Homo sapiens: one gene and its partners. The protein of the gene in region 3 purifies or fractionates together with the protein of the main gene of each other region. This does not show direct contact. Each region holds a gene or a part of one and is shown on either strand. Other genes may lie near its edges.

Evidence for each region. The genes of interacting proteins can lie anywhere in the genome.
Region 1: the proteins of ASB14 (region 3) and FRMD5 purify together in Homo sapiens (affinity purification with mass spectrometry; one large-scale study listed by BioGRID and IntAct). This does not show direct contact.
Region 2: the proteins of ASB14 (region 3) and VRK2 purify together in Homo sapiens (affinity purification with mass spectrometry; one large-scale study listed by BioGRID and IntAct). This does not show direct contact.
Region 4: the proteins of ASB14 (region 3) and DNAJC11 purify together in Homo sapiens (affinity purification with mass spectrometry; one large-scale study listed by BioGRID and IntAct). This does not show direct contact.

Annotation. Positions count from the first base shown.
Region 1 is NC_000015.10:43,884,272-43,887,771, forward strand, and holds part of FRMD5 (FERM domain-containing protein 5), read right to left. Parts: intron 1,485-3,500; coding exon 1,410-1,484; exon of another isoform or gene 1,397-1,409; intron 525-1,396; coding exon 456-524; intron 1-455. UniProt on the Homo sapiens protein: May be involved in regulation of cell migration. May regulate cell-matrix interactions via its interaction with ITGB5 and modifying ITGB5 cytoplasmic tail interactions such as with FERMT2 and TLN1.
Region 2 is NC_000002.12:58,088,306-58,091,805, reverse strand, and holds part of VRK2 (serine/threonine-protein kinase VRK2), read right to left. Parts: intron 3,466-3,500; coding exon 3,360-3,465; intron 2,176-3,359; coding exon 2,083-2,175; intron 1-2,082. UniProt on the Homo sapiens protein: Serine/threonine kinase that regulates several signal transduction pathways.
Region 3 is NC_000003.12:57,289,886-57,294,094, forward strand, and holds the start of ASB14 (ankyrin repeat and SOCS box protein 14), read right to left. Parts: upstream 2,801-4,209; 5' UTR 2,748-2,800; intron 2,223-2,747; exon of another isoform or gene 2,220-2,222; 5' UTR 2,149-2,219; coding exon 2,027-2,148; intron 1-2,026. Other genes in the region: DNAH12 (dynein axonemal heavy chain 12), read right to left, coding at 3,896-4,086. UniProt on the Homo sapiens protein: May be a substrate-recognition component of a SCF-like ECS (Elongin-Cullin-SOCS-box protein) E3 ubiquitin-protein ligase complex which mediates the ubiquitination and subsequent proteasomal degradation of target proteins.
Region 4 is NC_000001.11:6,639,317-6,642,816, forward strand, and holds part of DNAJC11 (dnaJ homolog subfamily C member 11), read right to left. Parts: intron 742-3,500; coding exon 586-741; intron 1-585.

The DNA.
Region 1 (3,500 bases), on a different chromosome or scaffold from region 3:
TATTCTTTCTGGGTCTTAGATTCTAGGAGATAGGCTTCTGGAAACACAATTTGTGGATCTACATGAAGCATGGATCCTGAAATTATTTTAGAGCCAGTGTGGCAGGGCTGTGGGACTATCCTTGGCTTCATATGATCGACTGGTTCCAGAACCACTGAAATTGTGTGACACATCTATGATCAGTGTCAAGACTAGGGAGGGCAGAAGAGAATTGCCAAGTGAAGTGGCACCTGGATCTGATGTACTATCTGCAGTAGCCCTTCCTCCCTCCCCAGCTCTCTTATTAAGGGTCAAAGACTTCTCCCCATCCCTCTGAGAAGTTTCTTCAGCCTTCTGCTCCATTTTGGACTTTTTGGTAGCCACTGGAGCCAGGGGCTTCACAGTACTCAAACTGCTGGATTGAGATTCTGGGATCTGAGCTACAACTGTTTGGGGGGAAGCCCCTGGCAGCCTACCTGTGTATTTCCGGTGGCTCCCGTTTGATCTTAGCACTTGATTCCATGACTTCCTTTGCAACTCGGCCACTGTAAGTAGTGTAATAAAAACAAGCAGCAAGAAATGAGACTGTGTTGTAGGACAGCTCCTCTCCAAGATCTTAGGTGCTTTCCCTGAATCAGGAAATGGCATCTGTGGCCCACCCTTTCCCTGATGTTTTGGTCATGGAGAAAGGCTTGCTTGGTGGGGTAGACTTCTAAACTGTCATGACAGCCTATCTGAGAGAACTCTCTCCATCTCTAGAGTCTTTAGGATCTTCCATTCTCATTTAGGAGTAATTCCTCATTTTCCAGCATGTTCCAATTACATCACAAAAAAACACATAAGAACAACCTTTAGACAGTGAGACATGAATCACTGTTATAGTTCTTATTTTGCTATTGTAAGGGAAAGAGAAGATACATATTTATTTTTCATTTTCTTGGAGACAGGGTCTTGCTCTGTCTCCTGGGCTGGAGTGCAGTGGTGCAATCATGGCTCACTGCAGCCTCGACCTCCTGAGCTTAAGCAATTCTCCCACCTCAGCCTCCCAAGTAGCTGGGACTACAGGTGTGTGCCACCACACCCAGATAATTTTTTTTGTATTTTTAGTAGAGATGGGGTTTCATCATGTTGCCCAGGCTGATTTCAAACTCCTGGCCTCAAGTGATCCACCTGCCTCAGCCTCCCAGAGTGCTGGGATTATAGGCATGAGCCACTATGGCCGGCCAATATACATTTAAAACCCTACAGACAAATTGCTGTAGGGAAGGAAGGAAATAGTAAAAGGGTCATAAGATGGGAGAATTAGATGGAGACCTCAGACTTTTCTGAGTCCTCCCTGGTTTCTCTGTTCTAAAGGATAAGGACCACTGAGTTCTCCAGAGAAGGGTCTGAAAATAGATCCATAATGGTTACTTACTGTCACTATTTACCTGTATCGGAACCGGCTCCCTTTAAAGAATAAATTGCTGCTGGACACTGTGCGGACTTGGCTTGACTTCTCCAGCCTGTAGCAAGGCAAAGTCCAGTGTGATAGACAGCCTGAACTGCCTCACACAGGTTAAGGCAGCACATCCCCAGCTTCTTCCAAAGGCTACTTGAAACTTCAGGAAAAAAGCCCTTCATAGTCCACATTTGTCTCTGACTCTCATTTAGGATCTGGGGGCTGTGCTCACAGCCAGCTGCTCTCCTGCCTCAGTGCCCAGGACTGTCAACATGGAAACCCATTTTAGTGTCAGGAGAGTGAAGGCTCCCCCAAAATGCTTCATAGGTTTTACCAGGGGGACTGAGAGAATACATGCTCGGGTGGATGGTCTTGGGGAATAATAGAATGCCCATCTAATCTCAGCCACGTCACTTATTAGCAGTGTGACCTCGGGCAAATTTCCTTCTCTCTTAGCCTCACCCTTTTTATAAAATGATAGAGCTGGGACTACTGGACCTTAGGGGTCTCCTTTCCAGTCCCAGTATTTGATTTTGTGTCTATGTCTGGGTAATTGTGGGTGGAGAAGAGGGTGGGGGCTGTCTTTCCTGTTCCATCTCCCTTTTGGAGGGTCCTAAAATACATGACCACAGTAAAGACAGAAATCCTGCGATGAAGAAACTAGCTTAACTTTAATAAAAGTCCGTCATGTATTTGAATTTGGAGCCTTTCTCCCTCCCCCAGGATATCTATTTTATATCTCGTTTGAAGCTGCAGACAGCCGATGTGGAGCTCTGTAATACTTTCTCCTGGGTGACTTCACTGAGCCCATTAGCTCTCTCAGCTTGGGCACAGCAGCTCAGAGAGAAGCCTCCTAAGATGGGATCCACCTGTAACATGCCCAGGTGCCTATGGTACTGATCCAACCAGTAACCTATGTGAGTCTGAAACCTGTGCTATGAGCAGTGAGTAGGAGCTGTTTCCACAATCCATGAACAGTTCTTGGGAGACACCATCCCTGCCCGTCTCAGGGCTCCAGGACATCCGAGCTGCTTACTGGAGCCTGGGCATGTTCTTGCATCTGACTGGGCTCCTGCCATGGCACTAGGCCAAAGGCAGGACTAGGGATCTGTATGTGAGAGACACTGAGGGCAAGGCCAAAGCGCTGCTGCCAGAGACTTGACATACCTGGGGATCTCACCCAGGCTTTTACCGTTTGATGAGAACATTAAGGAGGCAATGGAAAACTGAAAAATGACCTCCATTTCCAGTGTGGGTGCAGGCAGGGCTGGGTGGGTAGGGAGATCTACTCGTGGGAAGACTCAGAAACTGAGTGAGGTCACAGGTTCAGAAGCAACACTTCTGTTTCCGTGACACAGATGGGAAAACCAAGCCCTTAAGAAATGCTGCTGAAGGCATGAAAAGACAAGAGGCAAGGAGATTGCTTCTGTTTGCTTCTTCTCTACCCTTTGGTAGAGAGAAAGGGAAAGCTTCCACATATGCCATTCCCAGGGCAGGGATAGTTCAGTGTGGAGCAGGCCCCTGTCGGCTAGTGCCTTCCTCTCTCTGCTGCGGAGACCCGTGGGACCCCAGTTCTTGGGCTGCTCCTCAGTCCCACAGGCAGGAGCTTGCATCTCAAGTTGCTTCTCTCTAGGTTCAGGTAACTGGCCAAACCTGGATTACATCCTCACAGGCAAAGGGAGGGTGGTAGCAAAAGAAAATAAATGTTTTCTTGACTTTCTATGGACAGTAGGGACTGAACAGGAGGGAAGTGTGACCATGCCAAAGTCTCCCGAGTATATTCAGGAGAAGAAAGGCTGCCGATTCAGTGAATCCTTGGTTCTGGTATAAACACATAATGGGAATTAAGTAATTCAGAATGCCTGTCTAAGAAACAGCTTCTGGGGCTGTGGCCCTGGCAACTGGGAGGACCCAGTTCTGCCAGCCAGCATCCCATAGCAGCCAGCAGGCAGCAGAATCTTCCCTGGAGAGAAGTATGGTGCCACTCATCCCAGAGCAGTTCTCATCTCTCCAGGATCCTTCAGGTTACTGGAACTGGGACCTGGCCAATCAGGGGCATTTGGTGAGAGCAGGGCTCACC
Region 2 (3,500 bases), on a different chromosome or scaffold from region 3:
AGCCTTTTTTCCTGTTTCTAGGACAGTCATATTCCTTCTCTGTTCTGTTTATTCATTCTTTTCGATCATCGCTTTAACAAGGTATTTAGTGTTTTTCTTAATTTTTTTTTTAGTACCGGCTAGATATTCTCAAATATTTGTTATCTATCTATTTCCCAGTTTCTCATTCACCTTTCATTTTGAAAAAATTTTTATTAAGAAATTTAACCAATGCAGAGATCAAATATTCAATTACATTTTTTCTAATTTTTTATAGACTCAATCATTTAACTCTTTAAACGTGATAATACAGTAACAACTAGGTATATTGTTATTTAAGTTTAAATTAAGTTAAATTAAAAATTCAGTTTGTCAATATTAATATTTTAATATTAAAAATATAATCTACATTTTTTAAACAGACTATATTTTTTAGAGAAGTTTTAGGTTTGATTTAGGTAAATTTAGAGCAATGTAGGTAAAACTGAGTGGAAAATACAGTGAGTTCCCATATACCTCAAGCCCACACAAAGTCTCTCCGCTATCAACATCCCTCACTAGAGTAGCACATTTTTTATAGTGAATGAACCAAGAATGACAATCCTTATCATCCAAAAGCCACAGTTTACATTATGTTCACTCTTGGTCTTGTCCATTCTATGGATCTTAACAACCAAATGATGACATGTATTCACCATTATGGTATCATGCAGAATAGTTTCACTGACCTAAAAATCCACTGTGCTTCACTCATTCATCCTTCCTCTCCCTTCTAACCTATGGAGATAGTAAAAAATTGATCTTTTTACTGTCTCTATAGTTTTGCCTTTTCCAGAATGTCATATAGTTGAAATTGTATAGTAACTAGCCTTTTCAGATTGGCTTCTTTTACATAGTAAAATACATTTAGGTTTCTTCCATGTTTTTTCATGGCTGAAAAGTTCATTTCTATTTAGCAATGAATAATATTCCATTATCTGGATGTATCAGTTTATCCATTCACCTACTCAAAGACATCTTGGTTACTTCAATGTTTTGACGAGTATGAATAAACCGACTACAAGCATTCACGTGCAGGTTTTTGTGTGGATGTAAGTTTTCAACTCATTTGGGTAAATACTAATGAGCACAACTGCTGCTTGGTATGTTAAGAGTGTCTAGCTTTCTAAGTAACTGCCCAACTGTCTTCCAAAGTGGCTGTATCATTTTGCATTTCCATTAGCAACAAATTTCCATGAGCAACAAATGAGAGTTCCTGTTACTCCAAATACTCATCAGCAGTTGGTACTGTACTGACCACGTTTTAAGTACTTAGCCACATACTGCTAATGGCTACCATATTGGACAGTCAAACAGAATATTTTCATCATTACACAAAATTTTAATGGAAAAGCTTGCTTAAAACTTTTTTTTTTTTTTTTTTTTTGAGATGGAGTTTCTCTCTTGTTGCCCAGGCTGGATGGAGTGCAATGGCACCATCTCAGCTCACTGCAACATCCGCCTCCTGGGTTCAAGCAATTCTCCTGCCTCAGCCTCCTGAGTAGCTGGGATTACAGGCACCCACCACCACACCCAGCTAATTTTTGTATTTTTAGTAGAGACAGGGTTTCACCATGTTGGCCAGGCTGGTCTCAAACTCCTGTCCTCAGGTGATCCACTCACCTCGGCCTCTCAAAGTGCTGGGATTACAGGCATGAGCCACCGCGCCCGGCCTCTCTGCTTAAAACTTAATTGGTTATACAGTAGGAAATGATGAACTAATATGACAGTGTTTTAACCTCTACATAAATCCATCTCTACTCCCACTGGATTTTGATGGTTCTTTGCTTATCTATATTTGCTCAGAAATTCAAATTCCTGCTCAGCCACTTCTTAACTGTGTGCCCATTAACATATTATTTAACCCCTCTGACTCTCAGTTTCTCATCCTAATTACTCATTAGTTTGGTACAAAGATTAAATTAGATAAGCAGGTAAGATAAATTACAACATTCATCATGTTACGCCCTCATTTGTAAACTCTTCTGGGTTAGAAGTTTGTTTTCTGAATGTTTCAGTTTCATACATTAAAGACCTTTATTAAAAGCAAAAGTATGTATTTACCTGGTCTGGATTTTTGTAACCCAAAAGTAGATTTGCTGCTTTTATATCACCATGAACATATTCATTTTCATGTATATATTCCAGTACATCCAACTGTGAAAATAAATAGATAAAATAAGGTTTACTGCTATTTAGAACTCATGATCAATTTCAACATTTTGAATATAGAATAACATGGGTTTTTTCATATTAACATTGACAAAGCGATGTATTTCACAATTACTGGTTAATTATTCTAAAATATCACATCTTCTGGTTGCTCATCCTAGAAAAAAGTAAAATGATCCTCAAAAATCAAGTATTTTAGTTGAAGTTCCAAAGGAAGAAAATCAAGATTCAAAAATGCTTATGCCTAATTCCTGATAGCCCAGTAGCCAAACCGCACTGCACAAAGAGGAAAAACATAGCATAAAATCAGAGATCTATGGTGAAATAATCTTGAAGCCCACTCAGCAATTCCTCACCTAAGCAATAATTATAAATCAAGCCTTGAGAATCTCAGAACAAAATGCCATGTCCATGAGCAAAGGGAAAGGTATTCTTCCTCTGTATGGTAATAGAAAACTCCTTAGCTTCATCTCTAAAGCCCTTCAGCCTTGCATGTTACATACACTTAGTACTCAATAAACATTTGCTGGCTTCGAGGATGGATAAATGAGAAAATTAATGCATTCTATTTGCTGCATTCCAATCTGGCATAAGCAGCTTCATGCTACTCAAAAGTGAAAAAATGAGACTTAAACAAACCAAATACAAACATATAAGACAAATATGTAGTATAAACAAATGTGTGCCTGAGTGCTATTAAGAGTTCGTTGCTTCTGCTTTGGCAAAGTATATTTTATTCATTGTCACAACTAATTATTGCCACCATCCCAAACTCATAATAAAAACTTCATAGCACCCCCCTACCATCACATGTTTAAAATGTCTGACAATATATTTTGCCATAATTTGCATTGTTATAACTGACAAAAGAAAGGTTATTCTTACAGCAATGAAAGCTTGTTCTGGTATGTAAAACAAAGCTCTAAGGAAAAAGAAGATCAGACTGGAGAACCAAAGCCTAATTGAGTTTGCAGTGCCATACACAGCACATTCTGTCACTTACAGAGCCCATTGTTATCAATTTCACCAAAATAGCCTCTACTCCTAATAACTGATGTCTCTAGGGCAATAATCCTTCATTCTCTAATAATTCCACAAAGGGAAAAGATTTCTATATTGCAAGAAGTAAACAATTTGGAAATGGAGCATGCGAAATAAGTAATTCTTACCATTCGGATACCTAATTGCAGGACAGTTGACTTTTTAAAGGTACCATTCTGGCCTGAGATCTTCTGTAAATCTATTCCTAGTCTTTCCATTACCATAAATCTGTAACTGTAAGAAAAAAGCATCAAAAAGAGATCATCCTG
Region 3 (4,209 bases):
ATCTGCTCGCCTCGGCCTCCCAAAGTGCGGGGATTACAGGCATGAGCCACCACACCCGGCCACCTTCCACTCTAATTATTTAACGAACCCAGGTTGAGGAGAATAAATTCCCTCGGACACTCTGTCCTGTTTACAATTTGGTCAATTACATTATCTTAAACATTTAAACCTGCATTCATAGATTTAGTATTGTGTTAGTTTTCTATAGCTGCTGTAAGAAGTAACCACACACTTAGTGGCTTAAAACAACAATAATAAAACAAATTTATTATCTTACAGTTTAGTAGTTCAGAAATCCAAAACAGTCCTCACCGGACTGAAATCAAGATGTCAGCAGGGCTCTGTTCCTTCTGGAGGCTCTTGGGGAGACTCTATCTCTGCCTTTTCTAGCTTCTAGAAGCCACCCACATTTCTTGGCTGGTGGACTCTCTGCCTCCATCTTCAAAGCCAGCATTGTTGGGCTTAGTCCTTTTAACACTGCCATCTCCCAAGTTGTCTCTCCTGGCTCCCCCTCTTTCACACTTAAAGATCCTGTGTTACACTGGGACCACCTGGGTAATCCAGAGTACACCCCCTATCTAAAAGTCAGCTGATTAGCAGCCATAATTCCATCTGTAGCCTTACTTCTCCTTTGCCATGTAAGGTTCCAGAAATTAGGACATCTTTGGATGGGACCATTACTCCACATGTCACAAGTATGTTCTAGTTTTCTAATTCCTTCAAGTACCTGACTAAATCAGCAAGCCTGCCTAAGTATCATACACTTCCTGCAAATCTAATCAAGTAAATGCATAACCACAGTCAATTTCAGTTTCTCTGAAACATTTCAATACTCTCCTTAGCCCAACTCTCTTATACCTTTCAACCTAAAATTGTAAGTTCAAAGTCAGTTACTCAATTATGCAATTTAAGGTTTTAATCATAAGGTTAATATAACAGATAATCTAATAAGGCTAATTTCTTTACAAAACTTTAAATATTTAAAGATTATTTTAAAAACTAATCCTAAATTGAACACAAAAGTATAGGAATAGTGTGTGGCTAAGAGCACAGACTTTAGAATCAGACTGCCTTGCTCTTCACTTACTAGTTCTGTGACCTTGGGTAAGCCACTTAACTTTTCTGTGCCTCACTTTCCTCCTCTCTAAGTAGGGATAATAATAGGACCTACCTCATAGAGAGGTAATGAGAATTAGAATTTAAAAGTTAGTATTTATGAAGTGCTTAAAATAACATGACACATAGTGATCACTCCATGGTTTGTTACATTTTAAAAATACTATATAGGTTTGATGTACTTCATTGTCTCTATTTAGTTATGAAATCTCTTGGGGTTAAAAGACATTTTTCTAGTTTTACATCCAGCAGGCAAATAGAGATTACCATCCCAAGTAAACTGGGTTATCACCCCTGAAAAAATGATGGTTACTGCCTCAGGAGACCAAGGTTGCTGATTGGCCAGCGAGCGTGTGAGCAGGTGTGCCATATCCAGGACGATTCTTCTTACACCCCACACAGGGTCCCACTGGTCCTTTTTCAGTGTTGTCCAACAAAACTCTGAATCTACACTTTCAGAAGCCTTGTTCAAGTTTATGTAATTCCTCCTTTTGATTTGAGTAGATCAAAGACTGGACCCCATCCCCACCTACCCTACTAAGGTTGAAGATAACTAACTTTCTATGTGTCCCGGTTGGATTTATGCATTTCTTCAATTCCCAAAGACAAGATGTATTAGTTTTTCTCTAGCCCTTCATATCCTCCTTTCTTTCTTCTGATTTCCAGTCTGTATCACCTCACCCAGATTTGCTGCTAACCTCCTTCAGATATTTTTATTGCCTAATTAAATTCTGAATTATTTCCAGATTATTCCTGTCTAGTTAGGCATAATATCTTACAGATATTTAATTGACAGCTCCTTGGATTCTGACCCTCCTGTTTTTGTCACAACACTAGAGTTAAGCTAATGACAAGTGTCAGCTGTTGAATACAACACTTAATACTATATTGCCGATGAGAAAACCATTACCTCTCATCCTTAGGTGCATGTTGTGCTGTTCCTGGCTTATAAATATCCTGCAAACTCTGTTGAATGATGAGCTGGGTGTCAAAGTCTTCATCTATGTCTTCATCGCTGGTGTAATTATCCATGTGAAACGTGGACAGGTTTACTTTAAAGTCAGAGTGAATTAAAAGTATTTTTCCAGTTGTGAAGAGATCAACTGCTTAAAATTACAAATGAAATTCAGAAATCTAGAAAATTGGTAGGATTAACAATGAAAAATATACAAAATTTAGGAAACAAAATATTCACTAAAAAATTTCTATAAACTTAAAAAAGTTTTGTGGACTGCCACAGATTCAACAAAAATTAGAAGTTTCCATGAGTAGCCATTGACTTAAAGCTTATTCAGGAAAAACCACCTTTCAAATAAGACTTCGGTTAGTGCCACTCTAACACTGACAACACTCTGATCTGTTCAACTTGGCTGTGAGTCTTTCACAGTGATTGTAGCACTCATCCAAAATAATATCTTTCCTACACACAGTGTGATGCTGAAAATAATATTTTACTTAATATACATTAAAAATAAACATGTTATAGGAACAAATGTATTCTCATAATTACAACATGGATACAGCAGTAGTAAAAACAAATGTATCTTACTAGGCAATATCTAAATGGTTTTAAAAGAAAAATGTCAGTTTTAGCATAGAATACATTTGGTCACATTTCAAAGACTTTTTACCTTTTGTTTTATCCTCTAGGACAGCAGTGAAGTTTTCACTGTTAAGGACTAACACATGTAAGCCTCAGAATTTTCATTTATATTTAGGCTCTCCTCTCCCCTGTAGTGACCATTCCATTAATAGCTTTACTATAAATACTTCATCATAAGACAGTTTGGCACATTCTCCTTGTTTTTTACATGTGGTTTAGCTCTTTTTGGAAACATGATCTCTTTTCTTCAGTGCTACATTCATCAAATTTAAAGGATTAAATATTTTATTCCTGGAATAAAATGCTTTTGCAGGGGGTTGGCCATGCAAAGAGAATTCATGCACATAGCCACTGCAAACCACAATCAATTTTTCACTTAAGAGAACCCAAACATTTTGCTCTGACCCAATTATCCAAAGTGACTGTCCCAATGTACTAGATTCACTAGGTAGCTGTGACTACATTTTCCTTGGGTTACAGAACTGTGGCCTTCAGTGTCCTTGGAATCCTAAGGGAAGAATTCACTCTACACAAGATAAAATTTTGATCAAAATTCTGTTTTGTTGAAATATTTTTAAATTGTTAATATACACTAAAAAAAGCAAAGGGACCACTTGACATTTCAAATTAAATATGAAGCAAATGCCGAGAAGCACACTGTCACTGCAGGTGTAGAAGTTCGGACTGCCCTCAAGCCATCCTACTGCCTTTGCAGGCCAACTTCGCAGCTTTGAGTTTCCTTTCCTAGTCACAAGGATGCAGTGAGAAATGGAACCGATGTCTTAGAGGTAAGAAATAAAGAGGTATAGTTGGGTAACTTTTAATATTTTCCATATTTATAATTTCTTAATTTATGTATTTGAAATATTTATGTATAATTACTTTAGGTAGGAGAGTGGAAAGTAAACTATACTGAAGCTGAAGGAATGACTTAACATTTGTGAAGGAGATAATTCCTGATATTTGTTAAATGTTACCGTTTAACCCCCAAATCTATTTTTCACATACAATCAAACTTCAAAAAGTTCTCCTCAGAAAGGAGAACAATGCAATGAGTGTTTGCAAAGATCATTTAAAAGAATAACACCAAAACACTTGGTTTTATAATGTATATATTTTAAGTAGGACAGGTTTTTTTTTTTTTAAACTTTTGGATGTTTTATAAATTTGTCCAATTTAGTCATCCAACTGACAAAGCAAAGCAACCCCGCGCTTGATCCAGTGCCGAGTAGGTTGGTCTGTTTTTAACAACATTGCAATGACAAAGTTAGTAGAATGTCCCGTAGTGGAAAGAGTTCCTTTACGTTCACTTGTCTTGTAGAGGGGACAGACATAGGCATCCGACTTTATAATCCGAGATTTTTGAGCTTGAAAAAAAAAAAGAAATATATTCACTTGATAAAGGGAAAAACAGCCATTGGTACGAAAAGAACTATTTATCTTGTAATAAAATGGCCAGAACTAAATCTAAGATCATAATTGTGATATAT
Region 4 (3,500 bases), on a different chromosome or scaffold from region 3:
GAGGATCAACACTTTTTTTTTTTTTTTTTTTGAGACCGAGTCTTGCTCTGTCACCCAGGCTGGAGTGCAATGGCGCAATCTAGGCTCACTGCAACATCCACCTCCCAGGTTCAAGCAATTCTCCTGTCTCAGCCTCCCAGGTAGCTGGGATTACAGGCACGTGCCACCACGCCCGGCTAATTTTTCTATTTTTTTAGTAGAGACAGGGTTTCACCATGTTGGCCAGACTGGTCCTGAACGCCTCACCTCGGGTAATCCACCTGCCTCAGCCTTCCAAAGTGCTGGGAATACAGGCGTGAGCCACCACGCCCAGCCGAGGCCCAACACTTCTATAAACTCCAGTCCTTTCTGAGAGTAAGATTTACAAACGAAGAGATAACAGCAGTCCAACTACGGACAATGAGGAGAAATAGTTAACATTTACCAATCGTGACCCAGACATCAGCCTAAGTGCTTTACATGCATTACTTAATTCAGGTTTCCTCATCACCCGACGCAGGAGGCTCTGTTATCCTCTCCATTTTAAGGGTGAGGAAACTGAGGCACAGGGCTGGCTAGTGACATGCCCATGACGTGTCAACTCACTTCTCTTTCTGAGCCCTGAGGTATGGTTTGATGATCAGACGGTGCATGGCAAAGTAGACCACTAGAGGCCCCACGGTGGCATAGAACATGGCGCTGGGCAGAAGCTGGTCCGTCAAGTGAATAGGGAAGAAGTATGTCTGACTGGCCCTGTTGAGCCTGGGGAAAAATACAAAAAAAAAAAAAAAAAAGCCAAGATGAATCAGGTTTTCCAGGGAAGGGCAATGGGGTGTCAGGCACAGGAAGAGAACTTGTGCTGCGTGCAGCTGCGAGTTAAAGGAGCCTGCAGTCTGCTCCTTTCACAGTCCACCACCTTCTGGCCTCCCGTTCCAAAGTCTGGCTGATGGATCTGACACTGTGACAGAAGAAAGATCCCAGTGTCTGCTGACCTCAAGCCAAAGCAACAAGAGGAACACTTCACGGGGTCAACGTCCCCTACAGGTGCATTCAGTCATAGGCTGGAGAGGACAGGAATGGGCTCCTCCAGATGTCACTGGAGAGTCACATCTCAGTTCTTAACTGAGGTTTCCAAAGAAGTTAGTGAAGACTTCAAAAGTTAGTCAGTTAAGGAGGTTCTGCTTCCAGTGGTGGCTGAGTAAAGTAGCTCCTATTGGACCAATGTGTAAACTCTGGACCACATATAAAAAATTTGGCCAGGCGTGGTGGCTCACGCCTGTAATCCCAGTACTTTGGGAGGCTGAGGTGGGCGAATCACCTGAGGTCAGGAATTTGAGACCAGCCTGGCCAACATGGTGAAACTTCATCTCTACCAAAAATACAAAAATTAGCCGGGCGTGGTGGTACCTGTCTGTAGTCCCAGCTACTCGGGAGGCTGAGTGAGGCGGGAGAACGCTTCAACCCAGGAGGCAGATTGTACCACAGCACTCCAGCCTGGTCAACAAGAGGAAAAGGACTGAGGATGCATGGACAGAATCTCAGAAACCCGTGGAAGAGTGTTAAGTTTAATATATTGGTAATTAGAGCCCCAGTGAGGAAAAGGAAATTTACAGATGCAAGAAGTTTAGGAAACCCCAAGCATCATAAATACAACAACAGCCTTATCTATGTACATCACAAACTGCTGAAAAGCCAGAAAAAGAAAACATGCTGAGTAGCCACTGACAATACCTGATCACACTCTTCCAGAATAAAAGCTCTTCCAGAATAAAAGCAATTCCAGAATTGATAAAGAACACTCAAAACTTGGCCAGGCTCAGTGGCTCACGCCTGTAATCCTAGCATTTTGGGAGGCTGAGGCAGGAGGATCGCTTGAGGTCAGGAGTTTGAGACCAGCCTGGCCAACATGGTGAAACCCTGTCTCTACTTAAAATACAAAAATTAGCTGGGTGTGGTGGTGGGCGCCTGTAATCCCAGCTACTCAGGAGGCTGAGGTAGGAGAATTGCTTGAACCTGGGAGGTGGAGGTTGCAGTGAGCCAAATGCACTCCAGTCTGGGGTGCAAGAGCGAAACTCCGTCTCCAAAAAAAAAAAAAATATATATATATATATACACACACACACACACACACACACACAAACAGAGACAGGTTAAATGTGAATGGGTAAAAAAAATAAATAGTAAGCATAAGAAGACTAAAAAAGCTATATAGTAACAGATAAGGTAGACTTCAAGACAAAAATTTTTTTTTTTTTTTGAAGTGACAGGGTCTCACTCTGTCATCTAGGCTGAGGGGCACAATCACAGCTCACTACCACCTTGAGCTCCTGGGCTCAAGTGATCTTCCTGTCTTGGCCTCCCAAAGTGTGCGCGCCACTGTACTGAGCCTTCAAATATTATCTGAGGAGAGATGGCTGACGCCAGCTCTAATCTAGGTAAGTGATTTGGCTTTGTTTCCAAAACTGAGCTGTGATCCACTTTGATTCACTCACTGAGTTCCTCTCAAGTACCACGATGGGTTTTAGGTTCTAGAAGTGCGGGTGAGAATAAAATGGACCAAGTCCAAGAGCTTATGTCTGATGAGGAGTGCAGGAGATGGCCCTTCAGATGGAGACTGGCTCGTTGGAGATTGAACATGGCAAACATGGTGGGGGGGATCACCTGGGGCAAGGGGAAGGGCTACTATGTTATACAAGGTGAATTAGGGGACATTTGAGCAGACAGCAGATACTTACAGGGAGTGAAGGAAATGGCCACGTATTTATCTGCAGACTGAGAAATAGCAAAGGCCACCTCATAAGCAGGAGGGGGCCTGGTGTGTGCCAGGAATAGCTCCAGGGGGTCAGGATGGCTGGGGTTGGGGTAGAGAGGAGTACTACATCACGGAGGGCATTGTAGGCTCCAAAGTCTCTGAAGGGCTTTGGCCTCCGACTGGAATTGAGGGAACCTCTGAGGTTTTAGGCAGAAGACAGACGTGAACTGCCTTCAATTTTAAAAAGGACTCTCCTACGGAAAGCAGACACACAAGGAGGGAGACAGGTTCCGTGGGGAGGGTGCTGTGTAACTAAGACAAAGATGCTGGCCGCAGTGAGGTTGAGAAATGGCGAGACTGGGGATACAATTTTGGAGTACATGTTCAGGAGATGATTTTGAGATATGTATGATTTGGAGTGTGGGAGAGAAAGAGATCGAGGCTGACTCCAAGGTTTTTGGACAGAGCAAGTAGAAGGCCAGAGCTCTCATTTACTGAGATAGGAAAGGAGGCTGGGCGCTGTGGCTCACACCTGTAATCCTAACACTTTAGGAGGCCGAAGCGGGAGAACTACTTGAAGCCAGGAGTTCAAAACCAACCTGGGCAACCAAGTGAGACCCTGTCTCTATAAAAATAAAATAAAAAAAGAGAGAGAGATGGGAAAGACTTCGGGCAGAGCAGGTTCTGAAGGTTCTTCGTTTCTGGGGGCACAGGGAGGGATCGAGTTCTGTTTGGATACGTGACATCTGAGATGCTGTTAGGTATCCAA